3 separate regions of the Homo sapiens genome follow, and all the other regions are linked to region 1. Evidence: fine-mapped expression QTL. Tissue or cell type: whole blood. Region 1 holds a variant in brackets; each other region holds the start of a gene. All regions are shown on one strand. Distances are between the middles of the regions.

Region 1 (8,105 bases):
AAAGCTGCCCAACTAGCTGTTTCCAGACATGTCTATGAAATGTTTAGTCCCACAAATGCTGTGCCCTGCAGCTAGGAGAGATGCAAAGTGAACTGAAGATATGGTCCAGTCTCCAAGGAGATTACTATCTAGGGGAGAATTTACATGCATAAAAACATGGACTAGAAACAAAGGTCAAGGCCCCCGACTGCACCGACACACAGCCGTCTGGTTTGGATCATGCAACACCACTCTGTGCCTTATGTTGATATGAAAACCTGGGCATCCCCAGTCTCAGCTGCTCTGAGCATTTGGACTCTATCTTGTCAAGGAAGAAAGAACACTTTGTGACTGTATTTTTAGGGAGCACAAGGCAAGGCACTAAACAATCTGGCCTACCAATCACCCTAAGAATCTTGAATGTTTTGCTTTTAACTCTATTTCCTTCCCTTAGCATGAATTTTTATTTTATCTTATTTTATTTTTTGAGATGGAGTTTCGCTCTTGTTGCCCAGGCTGGAGTCCAATGGCGCAATCTTGGCTCACTGCAACCTCCGCCTTCCAGGTTCAAGCGATTCTCCTGCCTCAGCTTCCCGAGTAGCTGGGATTACAGGTGCTCACCACCACGCCCAGCTAATTTTTGTATTTTTTTTAGTAGAGATGGGGTTTCACTATGTTGGCCAGGCTGGTCTCAAACTCCTGACCTCAGGCGATCCACCCACCTTGGCCTCCCAAAGTGCTGGGATTACAGGTGTGAGCCACCACGCCCGGCCATGAATTTTTAAAAGAAAACAAAACCCTTTCTGCTTGGAAAAATGTCCATCTTGGAAATTGGCACCTAGGATGCCTCTAGAATGAGAGATAAGCATCTATCATTGGCCCAGAATTGAAACAGCCACATTATTGTAGGAACAAATAGTTGGAAAATAATACCATCTCACGCTATACCAGGAATTACAATGCACAAGATACTTGCACATTCCCAATTTGGTCCTCACAGCAGCCCTGTGAGGTAGGCAAACAAGTGATATCCTCTCCATTTTACAAGGGGAAAAAATATGTTTGAGCCAGAGCAATTGCCACTGTAAATTTTTCTGGGGGGAGGGCGGCGGGGACAGAGTCCTACTCTGTCGCCCAGGCTGGAGTGCAGTGATGCGATCTCAGCTCACAGCAACCTCCATCTCCCTGGTTCAAGCAATTCTCCTGCCTCAGTCTCCCAAGTAGCTGAGAGTTGGGCGCCACCATGCCCAGCTAGGTGCATGTTGGCCAGGCTGGTCTAGAACTCCTGACCTCAGGTGATCCTCCCGCCTCAGCCTCCCAAAGTGCTGGGATTACAGGCGGGAGCCACCGCGCCTGGCCTGCCATTGTTAATTTTAACTCCACCCTTGCCAAAGATGAACTCTTAACATGAGGAGAATTATTTAGGCCTAAAGTTCTTTGCTTATAATATTATAGGTTGGTACAAAAGTAATTGAGGTTTTTGCCATGGGGAGGCGGCGAACCGGCAAGAGTAATCCCGATAAAACACACTGTCAAAAAGAAAGACCTCAGACACCAGTCCCCACCATGCAGAACATGTTCATGTAAGTTATTCTTCTAGGTAACCCCTCCTCCTCCTCCTCAAGATCTCAGCTCTAAATCACTTTCTCAAGGACGCCTTCTCTGTCCTCCTGTTATACACTCATAGTACACTGAATTTTATCTCTATGACACTTAACAGTTTACACTACACATGGACTCTGATTTTCATAACAGAGTTCATGATGTTCTCACTCATCATAATCTACCCAGTTCTAGGGGGTGGGTCATGGGACCAGGCAGTGCGGACTTGAAAAATAAAAAATAAAAACAGGCCAGGTGTGGTGGCTCATGCCTGTAATCCCAGTACTTTGGGAGGCCGAGGTGGGCAGATCACCTGAGGTCGGGAGTTCGAGATCAGCCTGACCAACATGGAGAAACCCCCGTCTCTACTAAAAATACAAAATTAGCCAGGCGTGGTGATGTATGCCTGTAATCCCAGCTACTTGGGAGGCTGAGACAGGAGAATCACTTGAAAGCAGGAGGCGGAGGTTGCAGTGAGCCGAGATGGTGCCATTGCACTCCAGCCTGGGCAAAAAGAGCGAAACTCCATCTCAATTAAAAAATAAATAGGCCGGGATGGTGCCTCACACCTGTAATCCCAGCATTTTGGGAGGCCGAGGCGGGCAGATCACAAGGTCAGGAGATCGAGACCATCCTAGCTAACATAGTGAAACCCTGTCTCTACTAAAAAAATACAAAAAAATTAGCTGGGCGTGGTGGCGGGCGCCTGTAGTCCCAGCTACTCAGGAGGCTGAGGCAGGAGAATGGCATAAACCCAGGAGGCAGAGCTTGCAGTGAGCCAAGATTGTGTCACTGCACTCCAGCCTGGGCGACAGAGCAAGACTCCATCTCAAAAAAAAAAAAAAAAAAGAGTACAGATATCACAGGATACAAGGACATTAAATAAGATAGAAAGGAGGGAGGGAAAGAGGGAAAGAAGAGACCACATGTAGACCCGACTGTGTTTCCAATAATGTGGAAGCTTAAATGTTAGGTTAGAATATTATAGATCATATGCATTAAAGCTTCATACTGCAGACACTTGTAAACAGTAAATTCCTGAAAGACCTATGAAGTTGGTTGCAGCAGCAATATCAGCACTTGTCATTTGGCAAGCTTCTTTGAAGCTAGCCAATAGATAATAGAGGTCACTATATACATACATATATATATGTATGTATACATACATATATATATGTATGTATACATACATATATATATGTATGTATACATACATATATATATATATGTAGAGAGAGAGAACAGAATAAGAGTAACAAGAGTAATTTTTTTTTTTTTTTTTTTTTTGAGAGGGAGTCCCACTCTGTCACCCAGGCTGGAGTACAGTGACAAAATCTCGGCTCACTGCAACCTCTGCCTCCTAGGTTCAAGAGATTCTCCTGTCTCAGTCTCCCAAGTAGCTGGCCACAAGTTTCGCTATGGCCGGCACGGTGGCTCATGCATGTAATCCCAGCACTTTGGGAGGCCGAGGCGAGCAGATCACCTGAGGCCAGGAGTTTGAGACCAGGCTGGCCAACATGGCGAAACGCCATCCCTACTAAAAAAAAAAAAAAAATCTGCCAGGTGTGGTGGTGGGCACCTGTAATCTCAGCTAATTGGGAGGGTAAGGCCCAAGAATCACTTGAACCCGGGAGGTGGAGGCTGCAGTGAGCCAAGATCATGCCACTGCACACCAGCCTGGGCAACAGAGCGAGACTCTGTCTCTAAATAAATAAATAAATAAATAAATAAATAAATAAATAAAATTTTGAGAAAATCTAGTTGATCAATGGCCTTTCAACAGAGGTCTAAGATCCAATTAGCCATGGTCCAGGGGAACAGGGTATATAGAATTGTCCTTTCCAGGGCTAAGTGAGGCAGGTCAGAAAGCCTCTTTGCAGGCTAGTCATTACTCTCAATTTGGAAGTAATTTATTTAAAATTTCAAAACAAGGGGTATGAGGGAAATACTCTGTGCACAATGATGTATCCCTTCAGCCCCAGAAACCCTCTGTAGAGCTCTAGGATTTGCAGTCAGCATTTGAAAAAATAGGGGGCACTTATTAAAATGGCAGATTCTCAGGGGCCAGTACCAGAGATTCAGATTAAGTAGCTTCAGAGTCAATGAACAGAAAAATCTGCCTTTAAAAAATCAGCCTGGGCAGTGGCTTACACCTATAATCCTAGTGTCTTGAGAGGTCAAGACAGAAAGATCATGAGGCCAGGATTTCGAGACCAGCCTGGGCAACATAGCCAGACCTCATCTCTACAAAAAAATTAAAAAATTTGCTGGGCATGGTGGCATGCCCCTCTAGTCCCAGCTACTTGGGAGGCTGAGGTGGGATGATTGCTTGAGCCTAGAAACTAGAGGCTTCAGTGAGCTATGATCATGCTACTGTGTAACAGAGCAAGACCTACCTCGAAAAAACAAAATTCAGCACCTTCCACAGTTCCGAAGGCAGTCTGTGAAGAAATAGTGTGGTAACCTCATTTTGTCTTGAAATATCTTCCGAAAGATCCTAAACGTTGCCTTTTCCTAACTACCACCTTCATAACAAATAACTTTCCATGATAAAGGGGACATTATTTCTGGCCTCCCCAACACCACTACACCCTTAAAGCCCACTTCCTTCCCCAGCACACACAAACTCCTATACAAACTGTATCTAGATAAAGGCGATAGAACTGGAAGTTTTCTGATGGCTGGGCACAGTGGCTCACCTCTGTAATCGCAGCACTTTGGGAGGCCGAGGCGGGTGGATCACCTGAAGTTAGCAGTTCAAGACCAGCCTGGCCAACATGGTGAAACCCTGTCTCTACTAAAAATACAAAAATTAGCTGGGCGTGGTGGTGGGTGCCTGTAATCCCAGCTACTTGGGAGGTTGAGTCAGGAGAATCGCTTGAACTTGGGAGGCGCAGGCTGCAGTGAGCCAAGACCGAGCCACTGCACTCCAGCCTGGGCGCAAGAGTGAGACTCTGTCTCAGAAAAAAAAAAAAAAAGAACTGGAAGTTTTCTGAAAGCTGGTCTTTTTGTTCCTCAGTTTCTATGGTTGGCCTTACCTGCTCAGTCAAGCATCTTTTATTAATAAGGCCTC[G/A]AAATACTCAATCTGACCTAAACAAAATTGACTATGAATGTTTTCCTTGCAAAGATCACATATGCAAGAAAAATGTTTGAAATGTTCACCATCTTTAAAAGAATCTGAAGACACCATTTATAGTTCTGAGTAAAAGGTTTGAATTTAAGCTGTTGCCTCCCTGCCTGCAACAGCAGTAATTCAAGAATTCTAAGTTTTGGCAAGGCACTAAAGTTTGCTGCTTCAGAATTTTTAGAATTTAAACAAATTTTATTGCACCTGTAAATGGAAAAACCCTGTAGAGCAGAGCCTCCCTAGAAAGCCACTTCAGAGACAGGAACCACAGAGGGCTTAATGAATCCCACGTGTCCACAAAGCGTGGCTCAACAGCCGGCAGTACATATGCCAGCAAACACAAACCAGATAGATGCCCTTAATGACCCAGGCCCATTGTAATCGGAACTCCTCGTTTAGAAAGAGAAAAAAATGAACTCTCCTGATTGAAATAACTCCCTCCCCAAAACAAAGTCAAATCCCAATTTCTTTTGAGGTTTACAAAGAGCCCTGATGTTTTGTTGTTTGTGCGTAAATAATACTTAAAGGTGCTCACATTTCTCAGAAACAAGAAGAAGAGAGGAGCTTTCAGAGTTCACTTGATGCCAAATGCAGCCTCAGCCAGACACGTGAGAACCACAATCATCCTTTGGAAACACTATTTAAGATCAAAGGGGTCTATCCTGTACCCTGCTATTCTCATCTCCTGGAATAGGGAAAGACTTGTCAAAAAACAAAACAAAATGAAACCAAAACCAACAGGCAAAAAAACCCCAAAAGACAAAAAACAAAAACCCAAACCCAGATCCAAGCCTGAAGATGGAATAAATGATTTAGCTTCAGAGTTGTTGGTATATAACCCAGCTAGTCCCCACTCCCTCCTATTCCAGCCTTCACCACACCTGCCCCCCCACCTTTATCCTTATATAAAACTTCTTTCTTGAACATTCAATTAAGCAAGTAGTGATTCACACCACACAAGCATATGCTTTAGACTTTGAATACTTACCTCCTAGTTTCTCTCTGCAGAGGATGAGCCTTGTTTGGGGGAATGGTTCCATGAGTCAAACCTTTGCACAAGTTTTGTGGCTCCTATAGCACTCTGTAGTACTGAAGCTGTTCTTCTGGTGGTTCCAGGAGAATTGTCTTACCAACTACAGTGAGACCACTAAGTTTGGTTACCTGCCGTGTTATTTCCCCCATGCAACAGAACCTCTAAATGAAAATACAGGTCTGGGCTGGGCATGGTGGTTGTAATCCCAGCCCTTTAGGAGGCCAAAGCAGGAGGATCACTTAAGCCCAGGAGTTTGAGACCAGCGTGGGTAATATAGCCTGACTCCATCTTTACAAAAATGAAAAAAAATTAGCTGGATGTGGTGGCAGGCACCTGTTGTCCCAGCTACTTGAGAGGCTGAGATGGGAGGATCTCTTAAGCCCAGGAGGTTAAGGCTGCAGTGAGCCGTAATCACGCCACTACATTCCAGCCTGGATGACAAGGTGAAACCCCATCCGAAAAAATAAAAAGAAAGCACAGGTCAGCATTTCATTCTATGTGACTTAGTATAATCACCTGAATGAAATGATAAATGAACCAAAATGGATGAGAACACACTGATATCAACAAACCCCAATGGCACCAAAACAGTTACGCTTCTGGGCAAACTGTCCATTACGGCAATTTAACAGACTTTTGCTCCTTTACTCAATAGGCAATTTAACTGAGAAACTAGAGAGCACTTACAGGAAAAGATGGTAGAGAAACGGGGCAGTGTCCGGCTCTGCCACTCACTCACACAGTGGCCTTGAGCAAGCTGCTAAACCTCAACATGTCCATTTCCACATTTGTGAAAAAAGGGATATGACGAAATAGTGTGATAACGTCACAGGAGAGTCAATGAGTTGATACATATTAAGCATTTCAGAAGAATGCCTAGCACATGGTAAGCACTTTGTTGGCATTGGCTACTATAGTGTAGACCTTCACCACCACCCTTTTTTTTTTTTTTTTTTTTTTTGAGATAGAGTCTTGCTCTGTTGCCCAGGCTGGAGTACAGTGGCGCAATCATGGCTCACTGCAGTACTCACGGCTCACTGGAGTACAGTGGCGCAATCACGGGGCTTGAACCCCGCCTCCCGGGTTCAAGCAATTCTCCTGCCTCAGCCTCTTGAGTAGCTGAGACAGCAGTCGTGTGCCACCACGCCTGGCTAATTTTTATATTTTTAGCAGAGAAGAGGTTTTGCCATGTTGGCCAACCTGGTCTTGAACTCCTGGCCTCAAGAGATCAGCCCGCCTTGGCCTCCCAGAGTGCTGGGATTACAGGCATGAGCCACTGTGCCTGGCCCCTTTTCTTTTTTTTTTTTTTTGAGACGGAGTTTCACTTTGTCGCCCAGGCTAAGTGCAATGGGGCGATCTCGGCTCACTGCAACCTCCGCCTCCCTGGCTCAAGCAATTCTCCTGCCTCAGCCTCCTGAGTAGCTGGGATTACAGGTGTGCGCCACCACGCCCAGCTAATTTTTGTATTTTTAGTAGAAACGGGGTTTCACCATGTTTGGTCAGGCTGGTCTCAAACTCCTGACCTCATGATCTGCCCACCTCGGCCTCCCAAAATGCTGGGATTACAGGCATGAGCCACCGCGCCCAGCCCCCTTCTTTCAATAAAACAAAATACCTAATTAGCGTTATCTGACAGTGTCTCCGAATTTGTCACCAACTGATAACTGTTGTTTCAATAAATATTCATGTGAGCCAGGCACGGTGGCTCACACCTGTAATCCCAGCACTCTGGGAGGCCAAGGCCGGCAGATTACCTGAGGTCAGGAGTTTGAGACCACCTTGGCCAACAGGGTGAAACCCCGTCTTTACTAAAAATACAAAAATTAGCCAGGTGTGGTGGCACACGCCTGTAATCCCATCTACTCCAGAGGCTGAGGCAGGACAATTGCTTGAACCTAGGAGGTAGAGGTTGCAGTGAGCCCAGATCGTGCCACTGCACTCCAGCCTGGGAGACAGAGTGAAACTCTATCTCAAAAAAAAAGGTTTTTTTTTAGTAATAAAAATTGACTTAAAAAAAAAAGTCCTACCTGTAATCCCAGCACTTTGGGAGGCTGAGGTGTGTTGGTCACTTGAGGTCAGGAGTTTGAGACCAGCCTAGCCAACGTGGAGAAACCCCGTCGCTACTAAAAATACAAAAAAAAAAATTAGTCGGGTATGGTGGCAGGCACCTGTAATCCCAGCTACTAGGGAGGCTGAGGCAGGAGAATCGCTTGAACCTGGGAGGTGGAGGTTACAGTGAGCCAAGATCATGCCACTGCACTCTAGCCTGGGTGGCACATTGAGACTCCATCTCCAAAAAAAATAAAGGATAAAAATATAAAAATTCCCAAACATTCTCCACGCACCTTGGGTAGTAACCCAAGT
Region 2 (8,105 bases), 57 kb before region 1:
GATCTCACACTAGCATTGAGGAAGATAACATAAAACTCACGCCTATAATCCCAGCACTTTGGGAGGCTGAGGCGGGTAGATCACCTGAAGTCAGGAGTTCGAGACCAGCCTGGCCAACATGGCGAAACCCCATCTCTACTAAAAATACAAAAATTAGCCGGGCATAGTGACGCATGCCTGTAATCCCAGCTACTCAGGAGGCTGAGGCAGGAGAATTGCTTGAACCTGGGACGTGGAGGTTGCAGTGAGCCAAGAGCGCAGACAGATCAAGACTCCATCTCAAAAAATAAAATAATACAAAATAAAATGCAGAATGTCACGAAATGCCTATGTTAAGAGGATATTTGATAGAGTTTTCTGAAATTTGACAAAAATACTAAACATATATATAAAACCAATAATGAACTGAGGTGAAAAATAATTTTTCTGAATTATCACCAATAAAAGGCAAATACTGATCAAACACACTAGAGAAAAAACTAAATTATCTTTCTATTTTCTTTAGAAAATATTATAAACTAACATCATATGAAGAGATGATTAAAGAGCACATAGCCATATAATGTAAGGGGAAAAAAGTATGAAGAAGTATGCCTGGCAGTTACTTAATAAAAATATGTTACGTTAAATTTTTGCATTATTTGTAATATTTTTCAACTTTTAAAAATTTATAACGTTATATTTTGTTTTAGTCTAAATACATATTCAGTTGTGTACCTACTTTTGTATCTAAAATTGTTATTCTTTTTCTTAAGGAGCCTCCACTCGCCAAATGCACATAAACTTCAGGCCCCACAAAATTTGAATCTGTCCCTGTTATCCACTTTTCTCTCTACCTAATTGGTCTACCCTCACCCATGCTTGTCCTCTTCCAATCTGTTCTTCATGCCACAGTCTAAAGGATCTTCTAAAAGTTCATGTATGATTATATTTATCTTACATTCTTTCAGTAATTTCCAATTAGCCTTACTATAAAAACCCAAGTCCTTAAAATAGGATCTGGGTCCTCACCACCTCTCTCCCTCTGCTCTAACCACACTGGCTTCTTTTAGTTATTGCAATGCACCAGCTCAGAACCTTTGCATATGCTGTACTCTGTGCTTAGGAGACATTCCACCACCCCAATACTCCATTAACAAATTATCTCCTACTCAAACTTCAGATTTCACTCAAAGATCACTTCCTCAGGGCACCTTAGACTAAATCAGCCTCCCACCACCTTAAATGCTCATTGCACCCTTTACTTTTCCTTCATAGCATGTCTATTTGTAATCATATACAAGATACAAGATTAGATTGTCCATCTCTCTGCCATTAGACTGCAAATTCCATGAACGAGGGACAATGTCTCTTCAGCACTAGTGTAGCAGTGTTACCGGAAAGGGGTCCTGATCCAGACATCAAGAAAGGGTTCTTGGATCTCGAGCAAGGAAGAATTCAGGACAAGACCATAGAGTAAAGTGAAAGAAAGTTTATTAAGAAAGTAGAGGAATAAAAGAATGGCTACTCCATAGGCAGAGCAGCCCGAGGGCTACTCGTTGCCCATTTTTATGGTTATTTCTTGATGATATGCTAAACAAGGGATGGATTATTCATGCCTCCCCTTTTTAGACCAGAGAGGGTACCTTCCTGACATTCCCATGGCGTTTGTAAACTGTCATGGCGCTGGGTGGGAATTTAGCAGTGAGGACGACCAGAGGTCACTTTCATCACCATCTTGGTTTTGGTGGGTTTTAGTCGGCTTCTTTACTGCTACCTGTTTCATCAGTAAGGTCTTTATGACATGCATCTTGTATCTTGTATCTTTATGACCTCCTATCTCATCCTGTGACTTAGAATGCATAACCATCTGGGAATGCAGCATAGCAGGCCTCAGGCTTATTTTACTCAGCCCCTTTTCAAGATGGAGTTGCTCTGGTTCAATCGCCTCTGACAGCAGCATCCTGAACAAAGTGGGCAACTAATTACACAATTTCTGGCCTCAAATAGTTTATAATCTAACCTTGAAAAAAATAGAAAAGAAACAATTTTACAATTTGGGGCTTCGATACAGATGAAATAGGTTATTTTTTTGTGCAAGAAAGTCTTCCTGGAAGTCTTGAAACCTGAATACAGAAGGATTAGTTATTCTAACCAGCTTGAAAAATTGGCCTAGGCCAAGGCTGTAACCAAGTATTCTGGTTGTCTAGGAACTGCTCTGACCACACTTCCGGCATAATTGTTTCTTGCAGAAAAACTACTTCAGTTTTTTTAAAGCTTCTTTTGCCTTCTGTAGGCTTACTTAAAAAAAAAAAGTATTAAGATCCTTTTGTGGTTCATAAGCCTGATGATTGGGTTTTCATGCTATTGTGTGAGTTACCACCCCTACCTCAAACCTTGTTAGGACTCCGCGCATTACCCCTCTGTGTGAAAAAAACAAAGTAATAAAGGTAATTTTTTTTTTTTTGCATAAGCCCTATCCTTGTACACATCAGGTTTCAACGTGTTTCCATCATTATTTTTACCTTATAGTATAGTGTTTTCACGAGTTTTTTTTTTTAATACTTTAAGTTCTGGAATAGTTTTCACGAGTTTTAAGAGACTCTTCTTGGCAAACAGTTCAACTCAGAGAAAATACTTTTACCAGCAAGGAGGTATACCTTGTTATATCGGTCTGGGGATGTGACTTGACAGTTCACCTTGCCAGGAATATCTCTGTGATTTTTTGTTTGTTTGTTTGTTTTGAGACAAGAGTCTCGCTCTGTCCCTGAGGCCAGAGTGCAGTGGCTCACTGCAAGCTCCGCCTCCCGGGTTCAAGCGATTCTCATGCCTCAGCCTCCCGAGTAGCTGGGATTACAGGCGCCTGCCACCACGCCCAGCTAATTTTTGTATTTTAGTAGAGACGGGGTTTCCCCACGTTGGCCAGGCTGGTCTAAAACTCCTGACCTCAGGTGATCCACCCGCCTCCCAAAGTGCTGGGATTACAAGCGTGAGCCACCGCGCCCACGGTGGGCGGTGAGAGGAGAGGGGCAAAGTCTAATTATTCCAGAGCGACCACAGAAATATCTGGAGCTAGTTTCAAGGGCTATTCCCCGCTAAAGATTACTTAATAATGCAGTTGGATGACCACGTTTCAAGATTTTTGTTCGATCTGCACATCCTCCAACATGTTCCAAGAGGGTGTTTAAAAAGTCACCAAGGACCATTAGGATAACCATTAGGATAAAGCTGTCAGGACATCCCTAAATTGTTTGAAACTACGATGTCTGCTGAGGAAAGAAGAACATAATTAGGCTTTGGAGTTAAGAGAGCTAACCAGTTCCGAATTTAATGTCTGAGCCAAATGAGAATGTTAAGATTTATCTCACAAGTTGTAGAGAAAATTAAAAACGATTAAACATCCGGGCCTTGAATAAGTGCCCGTCGACTTGGGGATTAAATATGGTAGAGTCCACTTTCCTCACCAGCTGATGATAATTTCTGTTATGTACAGTCCTCCTTTCTCTTCCTTTATCGGTTGGTTAGTATTTGCCAACTCTTTCCTGCTTTTCATCTTCTCTTCCCCCCATTTAAATCTTTCCACCAAGCGCTCAGAAACACGTACGTCCTACCAGAACGCAACCCGAGCCTGCGCGAGAGGTACGTACAGGTCTTGACCTTTTCCCGGTTCTCCGCCCTTTTCCCGGTTCTCCGCCCTTTTCTCCGGTTCTCCGCCCTTTTCTCCGGTTCTCCGCCCTTTTCTCCGGTTCTCCGCCCCTTTTCCGCCACTGCCTGATGCCTCCCTCCAGGCTGCGCCAGTCCGCAGCCCCGCCCACGCCGGCCGTCACGTGACCGCGCAGCGTGCTCCGCCCCCTGTCCCTGGCTCACGTGATCGCGCCTAGGGAGAAAACGTCTGACTCCAGCCACCGGCCTTCAAGGCACGGCTTTTTATTCCTTCGGCTGGTCGGCCTCTCGCCCTTCAGCTACCTGTGCGTCCCTCCGTCCCGTCCCGTCCCGGGGTCACCCCGGAGCCTGTCCGCTATGCGGCTCCTGCCTCTAGCCCCAGGTCGGCTCCGGCGGGGCAGCCCCCGCCACCTGCCCTCCTGCAGCCCAGCGCTGCTACTGCTGGTGCTGGGCGGCTGCCTGGGGGTCTTCGGGGTGGCTGCGGGAACCCGGAGGCCCAACGTGGTGCTGCTCCTCACGGACGACCAGGACGAAGTGCTCGGCGGCATGGTAACTCTTCTGTTTCTGCCCCGCCCCTCTATCTCTTGGGCTGACTACCCGGTTTGTTGCTCTCTTTCCCGGTCCCCACCACCCTCCTCCCCGAACTGGCTGTCTTATCCTTGGGTAGGTTTGGTTTTCCCACCTGAGGCCCTTTATGCCGGTGTAAGGGACTGCAATACTCTTTTCCTTTCTGGATTGAGGCACATGCGTACAGCACACAGAGCTTCTAGTCTGGACCGTACTGCTGTGGAGTTTACGTTAATATCTCAAGATAAACATGTGGAGACCAGTGGAGGATGGGTTGAACCAATGAGGATCAGGTGCTGTCTAAGAGCACTCAAGGCCTGATTGTTTTTCTTTTGGATTAGAGGATCACAGACAAGTCCAGTCCCCTTTATGAGGGACCTAGACCACCTCCACGTTTGTGCCTGTATACAATGTCTGTATCTGATGTCAATAAAAATAAGCCTGGGCCGGGCGCGGTGTGTCACTCATGTAATCCCAGCACTTTGGGAGGCCGAGGCGGGCGGATCAGAAGGTCAAGAGATCGAGACCATCCTGGCCAACATGGTGAAACCCCGTCTCTACTAGAAATACAATAATTCTAGCTGGGCGTGGTGGCGCGCAGCTGTAGTCCCAGCTACTTGGGAGGCTGAGGAAGGAGAATCGCTTGAACCCGGGAGGCAGCAGTTGCAGTGAGCCGAGATCGCGCCACTGCATTCCAGCCTGGCGACAGAGCGAGACTCCGTCTCCAAAAAAAAAAAAAAAAAAAAAAAAAAAAAAAGGCCTGAAGTGAACTAATCTGGTAGGCCGACCGTCGAACTATTGAGGGTGTGTGTTGCCTCACAAGAATCAAGAAAATTCAATTAGTGTGATTGAACACCTGACTGTTGCATTAGAGACTGTCAGTGTTTCATTTTCTATCTAATGGGTGTTGTCACAAGACTTCATTTTTTTTCCAGAGTAAATTTTGCTTGTGTATTGCAGAATTATGGAATGTGTGACCTTTGGAAACATCCACTCCAACCCCTTCCCCATGGAGGCCCAGAAAGCAACTTGCCCAAGACATGAGTAGTTGAGGCAGAGTCCTCTGACCCTGGGTTCAGCATTCCTCTCTTCGCTTTAAAACCAAATGCTTTATTGCTTTCTTCGTTTCAGTTCTCTTTTTGCTTTCAGCTGAATGCTGAGACTATGAAATACTCCAGGCAAGACGTTCCTAACTTTTCTTGTGTAGTTACACACCCTAGCTCAGTGTCCTTCAAACCTCTGGTCCCAACCCTTGAGTGAGTTATGAAATCAGTTTAGTGAGTAACTACCAACATTTTTTATTTCCTCTGGAATAGAATAGAATAGAAAAGGTCCATGTGTGTGAGTGTGTGTGTTACACTTGATAAAGGTAATCATTATCTATCTCTCTTTCTTCCCGAGTTGTAAAATATATTTCTTAGGTTGATGCTCAAGAGCTTGAGAGTCTTTTATAGCTGATGTTTTAAGAGGCTTGCATTTTGACTACACATTTCTTCCTGCCATATATGCTTCATTGTCTGTTAGTTTCTACCAAGCCATGTTGACATTGGTCTTAATTTAATTTTCCTCCTACACTTTAGGTTCACTACTCTTCCAACTACTGCACTTACTTGTCTGCTCACAAAATTCCTTTTTTATTAAAAAAAAGAAAATGTGTCCTTGAAGAGTGTTTTGTCCAGAAAAAGCAAGCCTTCTCTAGCAGTGACTTAAGTACTCAGTTAAAAGGTCAGGCTTTTTTAGGTGTTGAAAACAAAATTGATTACTTAAATATAAGGTATTCAGAGTTGTTTCTTCAATTCTTATAAACCACAGCTGTAGTCTGTGTGTATTTGAGGTCTCTTTAGTATGTTAATCCAATTTGCTTCGTTAAGCCAGTAGCAGATTTTTTGAGTCAGGGTCTTGCTCTGTCATCCAGGCTGGAGTGCAGTGGTACAATCAAGGCTCATTGCAGCCTTGAACTCCTAGTCTCAAGCAGTCCTCCTGCCTCAGTCTCCCTAGTAGCTGGAACTACAGGCACATGTCACTACGTCCAGCTAATTTTTAAATATTTTGTAAAGACAGGATTTCTCCATGTTGCCCAAGTCGGTCTTGAACTCCTGGACTCAAGTAACTCTTGAACTCCTGAACTCTTGAACTCCTGGACCTCAGCCTCCCAAAGTGCTGGGATTACAGGCATGAGCCACTGTCTCGGCCCAGATTCTTTTTTTTAATAAGTGTTTCTACTGGAGAGAGGTACCAAAATTGAGTGGAGGGCATAAGTCAAACTTAATGTTCCAAACTCAAGAATTCTGGCTTCTCTTCTAGGCTTTTTCAGAATATTCTACCACTAATTGTCAAACAGGACTCCAAGGGGAAGAGCTAGGACAAGAGCATTTGAGAACTTACTTGGAGCCGAGCAGAGTATGAGGATTTTTATACTTGTGCTTCAGTCATCACAGGAGTCCTCTGCTGTACATAGTATCCTTATCTTAAAAGGAAACTAAAACTGGAAGGTGGTTAAGTGACATGACTAAGTTCATATAGCTAATATTGGACAAAGCCTGGGTATCTTATGACCTCAGATCACCATGCTTTTTCTCCTATTCTAGAATACTGTGATAATAATCAGATTTCATTCCACATACCCACACCAGCATAATCACACCATAGGTCAGAGAGTCTGCAGGTGACATTCGGGGATGCCAGTGACATCATGGAACTCCTTAATTTACATGTAAAACTTTGTGTATAATATCTTCATTTTTGTGGAAAGAGCTCTAACCTAAAAAAGATTACAGATTGCTGCCATAGTTGGCAAAATAAATAGTGGTTAACCCCCACCAATCTCACTCAGGTCAAAGGATTGTATATAGCATTTACAACATGATTTAGATTTATAGTGGAATTTTTCAGGCATCTTTGAAATGCTCTTTTATATAGTAGCATCGTCTTTAACATTTCATTGTATTTGTTCCAGGTATCTGTGGGACTCTGTTTTTATTTTTTATTTTGCCAGGACACTGTTCTTATCACTTTCTTGATTTTATTTAAACATCATTATAGTGTGGTGGACACACTGTTCTTCACAGAAGCATAAGCTGCTCTTTTAAAAATAATTCATGGCCGGGCGCGGTGGCTCACGCCTGTAATCCTAGCACTTTGGGAGGCCGAGGTGGACAGATCACGAGGTCAGGAGTTCAGGACCAGCCTGGCCAGCATGGCGAAACCCTAAAATACAAAAATTGGCCGGGCATGGTGGTGCGTGCCTGTAGTCCCAGCTACTCGGGAGGCTGAGGTGGGAGAATCACTTGAACCCAGGAGGTGGAGGTTGCAGTGAGCTGAGATTGTGCCACCGCACTCTAGCCTGGGTGACAGAGCAAGACTCCATCTCAAAAAAAAAAAAAAAAAATCATTTACTCTAAGAAAAGTGACATTTGGCCAAAACCACAGGCAAGTGAAAGAAGAAACTATGATGAAAGGTAGGGGAAGAATAATTTTTTTTTTTTTTTTGAGTTGGAGTCTTGCTCTGTCACCCAGGCTGGAGTGCAGTGGCGCGATCTCGGCCCACTGCAACCTCCTTCTCCTGAGTTCAAGAGATTCCCCTGTCTCAGCCTCCCAAGTAGCTGGGTTTACAGGCACCCACCACCACGCCCGGCTAATTTTTGTATTTCTAGTAGAGACGGGATTTCACCATGTTGGCCAGGCTGATCTTGAACTCTTGACCTCAAGTGATCCGCCCACTTCAGCCTCCCAAAGGGGTGGGATTACAGGTGTGAGAATAAATATGTCATTGCTTCACTGAAAGCAAAACAATTTCCATTGTTAGCCACAGAATTATCAGAATTGTCGTTTCAGAGCAACTGTGCATGGAACCAGGAAAGTAAATGATTCTTTAGGGTTTTAATGAAAAGGGTTCT
Region 3 (8,105 bases), 120 kb before region 1:
CGCTCTTTATTTCTCTCTACACTTTATTTTTATCCATGGCACTTATTACCATCTGACATACTTTATATTTTATTCATTGTAAGCTCCATGAGGACAAAAAACTTTGGTCTGTTTTGTTTTTTTCCATTGCTATATCCCTAGAACCTAGAACATTACTTGGCACAGAATAATCAATAAATATTTATTGCATGAATGAATAATCAAGACAGGTTTTCAAGTAACTAAACCTAGAATATATTTTTTGACATTCCAGAGGCTCTAAAGAAGGGCAGTGATGATCCTTCTGTATTCTAGCCCTATGAGTCCTCCTTACCTTTCTCCTCCATTCCTTTGGTATTCCTGTGGATAGCCTGGCAACTGCCTTGAGAGCATCGTACCACTAGGAACAAAGAAGAAATCCCAGGAGGTGATCACAGTGACCTAGATAAGCACTTTGCAATCTTTTTCCCATCTTGACATTCATAGAATGTGCTGAAATTTGCACAGCACAATGGGGTAAACAGTCAAAGCTTCTTTCAGACAGAAGTGATCAGTCCATGGCTATTACTGTGCCACGTCCCACCCCTTGGGCACCCTTAACACATCTGTGACCCCTTTGCAGTACAAACAAAATGGTTGGGAAGCTCTGGTTAATAAGCCAAAATATATATTATGGGGTTCAGAATAAAAGACATTATGGTACAGGTGTGAAATTTATTCATTTTAAAATTTTTCACACATGTACCATTAATAGAAAGTGCAAAATTTGTCACTGCAAATATAAACCCAGGCCACTTGTAGCTCAAAAGCTACTTTAACTGAAATATTGTTGAAGTGACTCATCTTCACATTCATATCAAAGAATACGTTATTTCCACTTTGAGAATATATCTCAATGTGCCCTGTTGGTAACCCCAAAAGAAGAGTGTTTTCAAAATCAAAGTTACCTGCTGAAAACCATTTTGACCTAAAGATGGCTCAAGAGTGAATTTCAACTTGGTATCAACTCCTGAAAGAAAAATACATAAATAGATGTTATTTTTGGAGACTATAACAAGTTATATCAAAAATACTAGTAAAAGCTTGATTCTACTGAATCATCACAATTTTTTTTAAAGTATGTATCTTTACTAAATTTTAGTCAATTTTGCCAAAAGGTAAGCATATTGATTCTTAAAATAGGAAAATACCCTACAGCAATAGAAAGTGCCTTACTACATATGACGGTGGTTTACATAGATGCCTGGAGTACCACAAAAGCAAAAACAAAAACAAAAAATGACACCACAGGCTTGGAGTCATACAGTCCTCCATTCGACTTGGTTCCTAGACTGAAACAATTTATCTAACCTATCTCAGTCTCAATTCCTTTTCTTCTTTTTAAGAGATACAGTCTCAATATATCACCCAGGCTGAAGTATAGTGGCTATTCACAGGCACAATCATAGCACAATGCAGCCTTGGATTCCTGGGCTTAAGCAATCCTCCCACCTCAGCCTCCCAAATAGCTGGGATTATAGGCACGTGCTACCACGCACAGCTAATTTTTGTATTTTTTGTAGAACAGGGTTTCGTCATGTTGGTCAGGCTGATCTGAAACTCCTGATCTGAAGTGATCCACCTGCCTCAGCCTCCTAAAGTGCTAGGATTACAGACATGAGCCACGGCACCCGGCCCCATTTTTTAAAGGAATTATTGCCCAAAAGTTCAAGGACCAAGAAATGCCAAATACTATCAATAACATTAAGTTTTACAAATTTCAAAAGTCAAATGATGGCATTTTTGTTTCTAAGATTGTTGATTGTAGATTAGGTGTACTAAAAACTTCTCCACAACTTCCACTTCTTAGTGGTTGGTATGAATAGGAGCAATCTTCAGAATTTATGAAATAATAGTAAGTAATCAAGTAGACTGGTCTTTTAAAAAATATATATATACACGGAGTCAAGAAGCTGGAAAGAGATGTATCTGATTTTTGCAAGCCCATATCAGTATGCAGGTGTTCTTGGAACCCTGGAAGAGCGCTGTAAATTCCTGAGTTGGGTCCTAGGTTTCCAAAGTAAGCTGTGGCAGAGAATCCCAGGCATCCAATCAATGCCTTGATATTTCTTTTTAAAGCTTCAGGGCCATAACCATACTCTGCCTGGATAGATAAGTTTTTTTTTTCTCCGAAGGAATATTAAGTACCACATGGATCCGCCTCTCTCTGAGGTGGTTTAAACGAAGTCCTGCCCAAACATAGAACGGTGATAACAACGGCCACGGGAGTGTTTCCAGCCCAGCGCACGCTTTAAGGCACGCTGAAAACAAGTGAGGTTGCTGTCCGGACGCGAGGTGCTGAATGGAGGAGCGTATAATCATGACGTTTGCTTGATAACAAAGACCAGGAAATTCGGTCCCGCGCTGACTTATTCTTGCCACACTACAAGGATTCCCTGTATGTCTGACCAATATGCTCTTCTGACTTTTCCGGGGCACCTGCTGGGCATCATGCCGATTGCCTTCTCATAGTGAAACCCAGCAGGGGTTAGTTGGCCAAAACCACAACTATCCTCTCATGATCAAAAATGAGCAAGAGGATTTAACTGAAATTGATTCGCCGCCTGCATGCAAAAGCTTAAACCAGGTCACTTTCACCCCACTTTTCTTTTCTTCTAACAGAATACGGGCAGAGAGAAGGTTTATGTTTCATCTGATAATCACAGCTATTCCGGATTCAGAAATACAAAACACTTACTTTTAACGTGGGAAGGAGATTTAAAAGAAAAAAAAAAGAGGTAAAGGAAGATGGTGAATAAATACTACAGCCTCTGCAACTAGACACTTCCTAGGGGAGAACAACAAAGAAACCACGAGGTTGGGAAAGGCAGTGCCGCATCCCACCCTTTGGGACTCTGCAGCTCGATTCTCCTGCGGCTCTACAGCAGGTCCCCAAGGCGCTGGCGCTGGGGGGCGGGGGCCGGGGACCGTGAACCCGCCTGGAACGCAGCCGGTGCCACTCCAGGGAACAGGTGAGCGCCAAGCACCAGTGAGAGTACAGCCAACTCCCTCTGCAGCCACTCCTTGCCAGAAACCTCCGTGCCCAGGAGCCCGCGCTAGGGCCAGGCTCTTAAAATCCCGGGGAGGGATGCCGGGTGATGGAGCCGACACGGAGTTATGCAGTCTGGAGAAGCAGGGATGGGTAAACACAGGCTGACAGTGGGAAGGGCCTTGCCTAGCACGACCAGGCTCGTTCCTGGACCTCACCTATGAAAAGGATCTCCTGCTGCTCCCCACTCGCACTCACAAATTACAGGCTCCAGTTCGAGCTGACCCCGGCACTCACGCTGAAGGGACTCTTGGGAAAATAACACCCGATTTTGCCTTTGCAGCCACTGTCTTCCTCCTCCGACCTGCAGTGTCAAACCTGTGCCACTCTCCGCCCCCACACACCTCTCGCAAGGTCTGGCTTCCTGCGAGCCTGGAACACAATAGGTGGTGCGGCCTCTGAGGGCCCGGGCAGCCACCCGCACTTCCCCGCCACGCGGAGAAAGCCGAGCACACAGGCCGCAGGGTGGGGGTCCGCGGGGAGAGGGTGGAAGCAGCGGGTTCTCCGCGCCTGGGGTGGCCGCTGCCCCACCCAGGCCCCCGTCTGCCCTCTACCCTTCCAGACCAATCGCTCCCTGCAGGTGCCAACGCGGTGCCCCGCACCAGGTGGCACGCGGACTTTCCCCAGAGCTCCCCGGCCTAGACGGAGTCAGGCTAAGGCAGAAGCGCGGGCAGCCCCGGCGCTACTTTACAGCGCCCCATCTGCAGCCCTGGGGTCCTCACCCGGCTCCAGGGTGCACAGCAGCCGGGGCGCGGTCCGGGAAATGCAGCTGCGCTTCTTGAGCACATTGCTCAGGATGGTGCCCACGCCGCCGCCCTGCCGCTTCAGGCATCTCCCCCCGCGCCTCAGAGACCCGGTCAGCTTGTCCTGCCGCATCCGAGAGCGCCCCGGGCTCTGGCACGGCTACCGTCCGTCTCGGTCCCCGCTACCCCACTCGCTGAGCGGCTGAGCTCGCGGAGCTGGGTGAGTGTCTGCGGCTGACCGGCCCGTGGGAGCAGGGAGCGCACAGCCGGCTGGTGCTGGAGGGTCACGGGGACTTACGGGGCACCGCGGGAGCCGCCGAGCGCAGGGAAGCCAGCAGGCATCTGCAGTGCGGAGCCTGCAAGGCTGAGGCAGGAGATCGCTCGAGGCGGGGAGGGCGGGAGCGAGCGAGCGAGCGAGCGCGTGGGAGACGGAGGCGGCGTGCCCGCCCCCAATCCCGGCACCGCCGTGCGCAGGCGGGGCCGCCCCAGCTCCCCCGTGCCCAGAAGCGCCAGAGACAGGGAGCCAGTGGGCGCGTAACTGCGTTCGGGGACCAAAAGCAGAAACAGAGATGTCCGTGCTTCTCCCAAGATCTGGGAGGGAACAGAGGGAGCACCAAGGGGCGCCAGTCTCAGGGGCAGAACACCCGTAAGGGCAAGCATCCTCTCCCACTTCCGAGCAGTCTCAGAAGGGGCCATGACCCAACCGCAGGCGGCGAGGCACACGCTTCAGCCCGAATTGCGTTGAATTATTTCCTGGCAGATTAGAGAGGCGCGGAGAAAATGAAGGAAAAAAAAATTATTGTTTCTTTTAGAAAAATGGGCTTCCAGAAAAAAAGTGTTCTCTTTTCAAGCAGTATTAAAAAGTAATGTTCCTCATCTCTCCAGCCAGACTTCAGTAGTTCTGAACTATTGCCCATCATTATGGTTTAAAAAAAAAAAAGTCATTCTCAAACGGCAATATTCACCAATAGACTATTTACCATTAAAATGGATGAAAGAAAGGGTGTGGGGGGGGGATATAAAGATACTTGTGTTTGCTAATATTTATAAAAAGAAACACTAAATGGATAAACCAAAAACAAATTAGAAAACTTGTATAGGAGAAGGAACATCGTGGAGGAGACAAGAATGGAAAACTGAGTCCTCTCTTGATGTGCCTCCTGTAGTTTTGGCTCTGGAATAACACTATATTAATAATATTAACAAATTAAATTTTTAAAAAACCAGGATGATGGAACAGCATGCCTATAGTCCCAGCTACTTGGCAGGCTGAGGTGGGAAAATTGCTTAGCCCCAAGAGTTTGAGGCCAGCTTGGGCAACATAGCGAGACCCCATCTCTTAAAAAGACATAAAAATAAAAATAAAATTTGAAAATACATAAAATAGTCTGGGCACGGTGGCTCACACCTGTATTCCTAGCACTTTGGGAAGTCAAGGCAGGAGGATGTCTTGAAACTAGGAGTTCAAAGCTGCAGTGAGCTATGATTGCACCCCTGCATTCTAGCCTGAGCAACAGACCTAGTCCCTGACTATAAATGAATAAATTATTTTTAAATTGTAAAAGAAAACCCTAACAATTGAAAATTAATGGAAACAAATCAACCTAATGGACTATCCCACTTATAGCATAAGAACACAGAAAAAAATAATTCTCTCTTAAGTTGACATAGAACACAATATTATGACTGTACATCAACAGTTGTACATATTCCCAGAGCAAATAAAACTGCAAAGAAACCTTACATTTCATTCAGTAGTATTATTGTTATTAATAATATTCATATTTCTTAAATTCTTATATCCACTACAGGATAAAGCAAATAAATAAGTATGCTAACATCAAATGGAGCCAAGATGTTTTCAGTGTAATAGAAAATATGTGTATAACCAAAGTAATTAAGTTTTCTTTAAAATATTACAATTATATATTTATATGGGAAACACTAGTATGAACTCATTTTTTTTTCTTTTCAAAAAAATACATACATTCATTGAATAGGTTTAGAAGTAAGGACAACTCAGCAGCAATGAACACCCACAGCACCCAGGTTATGGTCTCTAAAAACCATTCCCCACTCAAAGGAACTAAGGCTCCTTTGAGGAGTGACTGATTCCAGGTTTGGGACAGAAAAAGTACAAGATGACCCTGAAACATTTTGATGAGCTCAAAAAGAAAGGAAATGTTTCACAATTAATGGGGTCAAGTCAAAAAGACACAAGAGTCACATAAATAGGCTCCTTCCTATTGGCCAAAGATGAAACAATTTGAACTTGAAAAACAATGGCTGAGCCTGGACAACATGGCAAACCCCCATCTCTACAAAAAAAAAAAAAAAGCTACAAAAATTAGCTGGGCATGATGGCACACACCTGTAGGCCCAGCTACTCAGGAGGCTGAGGTGGGAGGATCACCTGAGGCCAGGGAGGTCAAGGCTGCAATGAGCCATTATCGCACCACTGTACTCCAGCCTGGGTGATGGTGAGACCCTGCCTCAGAAGTAAAAACAAAAACAAAAAGCAATTAATTGCTGGGTCAGGTGCTGTGGCTCAGGTCTGTAATCCCAGTGCTTTGGGAGGCCAAGGTGGGACAATCACTTGAGGCCAGTAGTTCAAGACTAGTCTGGGCAAAATAGCAAGACCCTGTTTCTGCAAAAATAAAATAACTTAGCCAGGTGTGGTAGTGTATGCCTGTAGTCCTAGCTACTTGAGAGGCTGAGGCAGGAGGATCACTTGAACCCAGGAATTCAAGGTTACAGTGAGCTATGATTGGCCACTGCACTCCAGCCTGGGTGAGAGAGCAAGACCCTGTATCAAAAGAAAAAAAAATGGCTGCTATTGATTGAAAAAATATTGAATATTTTTAAATGCCTTCATAAAGATAGCCTAAACAAGCCAGAAAAAGAAGGCATTCCTATGACGCTTCCCAGAATTTGAGGACAATGTCAGAAATGGTGCAACCCTAAGAATGAGCTGTAAAAGAATCTATTAAAAATGAGATGAGCCATCTGCAAAAGTAAAGCAGGCTAATAAAGGACATGCAAGCTATTCAGTTGTAGCTGCCTGGCAGAGGTAAAGATGCTTTCAAAAGGGCAGTACTCTTTGAAAAGGCATCACTTTAGAAAATGAAGTCACTGTTTAAGCTGGTCATGACTAATTGCTTGGCTTAAATTTCCCAACCTTTTGCTGCGAGCTCCGGTACAGAAATTTATCCTCCATCAACCATCAACTTTTTACAGTTTTGGTACATGTTTGTATCCTTCAGCTTTGTATTAATTTTAATAAGACACTCATTGGCTGTTGCAGCCTATCTCAGTTGTACTGAGAGCCATAGGAAGAGGTCTGATGCTTCCCTTTGACCAGTTTTTTAGAGGGCACAGTATACCCTGGGGCTGAAGATGGTGATGAACACCCGAAGTCAAAGAGAGGGAACTGGCAGGAGAGGGAAAATCCAGCAGGACAAGTTGGTAACTGCATGCACAGTCTCGTCTTCCAGACCTCTCATATGCTCAAATCTTAGAGGGTTTTGTGTTCTATTTTAACAAGAGAGGCTATTCATGCTCGGTTTCCATCACTAGGCAAGCCAAGAGGACAAGCAATCAGCTCTGTTCTACAACACTGTCTCTGGAGTGGAGAGGAGGACGTCCTGCCCCTGGGGCTGTGACATATGCCACTCAGACCATCCAACTCCCTTTGGCTCTGACGTCATGCTCACCAAGCAAACTTTGGATTGTCATTTGATTTCCCATATAGACTCTGCTGCAGCACAGAGAATATACTGACCAGTTAATAGCAGTCAATACCCCTGAGTTCACTTACCAGTCAGTAACCTGAAGACACCAAATTTCCAGACTGCCAAAGCTGACATCTAGACTCTAGGCTGTCAACTCACCCATGTGTCATGACTGATAAAAAGACCTCTCTTTAGATTCTTCTTTACTTGTAATACTTTTCTTTACTAGTAGTGACAGAAGCTTGTTTGCTTGCAAAAGGAACATTCAATTTCACCTCTTTTAGATCTATTACGAGGAAAATCTAACTCTGTTTTTAAAATAAAATTTAAGAGTTTCTGCTATGATGGCAATAAACAGCAAAGGAATTAGATAATATTATTTTGTTTACATTGGAGAGGAAAGTCAGGACTGCCAACTTTTATAGCAAACAGATAATTACATGAGCACTAAAACACAATACTCTAAAAGCAGCGATGGCCCAAGCCTAGTATTATGTTGATTGTGTGACTCACAGTTTTTTATTTCATGTCTGGAATATTGTTTTACAAACGTGAAAGATGTCA

Evidence for each region. PIP is the estimated chance that this variant, and not a neighbour inherited with it, causes the effect.
Region 2: it holds the start of GNS, and the variant in region 1 is fine-mapped to the expression of GNS in whole blood (TOPMed, PIP above 0.99).
Region 3: it holds the start of TBC1D30, and the variant in region 1 is fine-mapped to the expression of TBC1D30 in whole blood (TOPMed, PIP above 0.99).

Annotation. Positions count from the first base shown.
Region 1 is chr12:64,698,374-64,706,478 of GRCh38, reverse strand. No RefSeq gene overlaps it. Among named protein-coding and RNA genes, the nearest start is that of GNS, 57 kb to the left of the region's middle. The variant G/A (reference allele first, on the strand shown) is at 4,655.
Region 2 is chr12:64,755,171-64,763,275 of GRCh38, reverse strand. It overlaps GNS (glucosamine (N-acetyl)-6-sulfatase), which reads left to right and starts at 3,870. Exons shown (of 14, transcript NM_002076.4): 1 at 3,870-4,191. The coding sequence starts at 4,000. It overlaps LOC124903113 (small nucleolar RNA U13), which reads left to right and starts at 2,303; the gene lies at 2,303-2,408. It also overlaps a transcript of TBC1D30 not described here. RefSeq lists an enhancer at 4,444-5,324.
Region 3 is chr12:64,820,718-64,828,822 of GRCh38, reverse strand. TBC1D30 (TBC1 domain family member 30) reads right to left here and starts at 4,176. Exons shown (of 12, transcript NM_015279.2): 1 at 3,790-4,176; 2 at 927-988; 3 at 314-379. The coding sequence starts at 3,943. RefSeq lists enhancers at 1,244-1,293, 2,971-3,478 and a silencer at 4,117-4,356.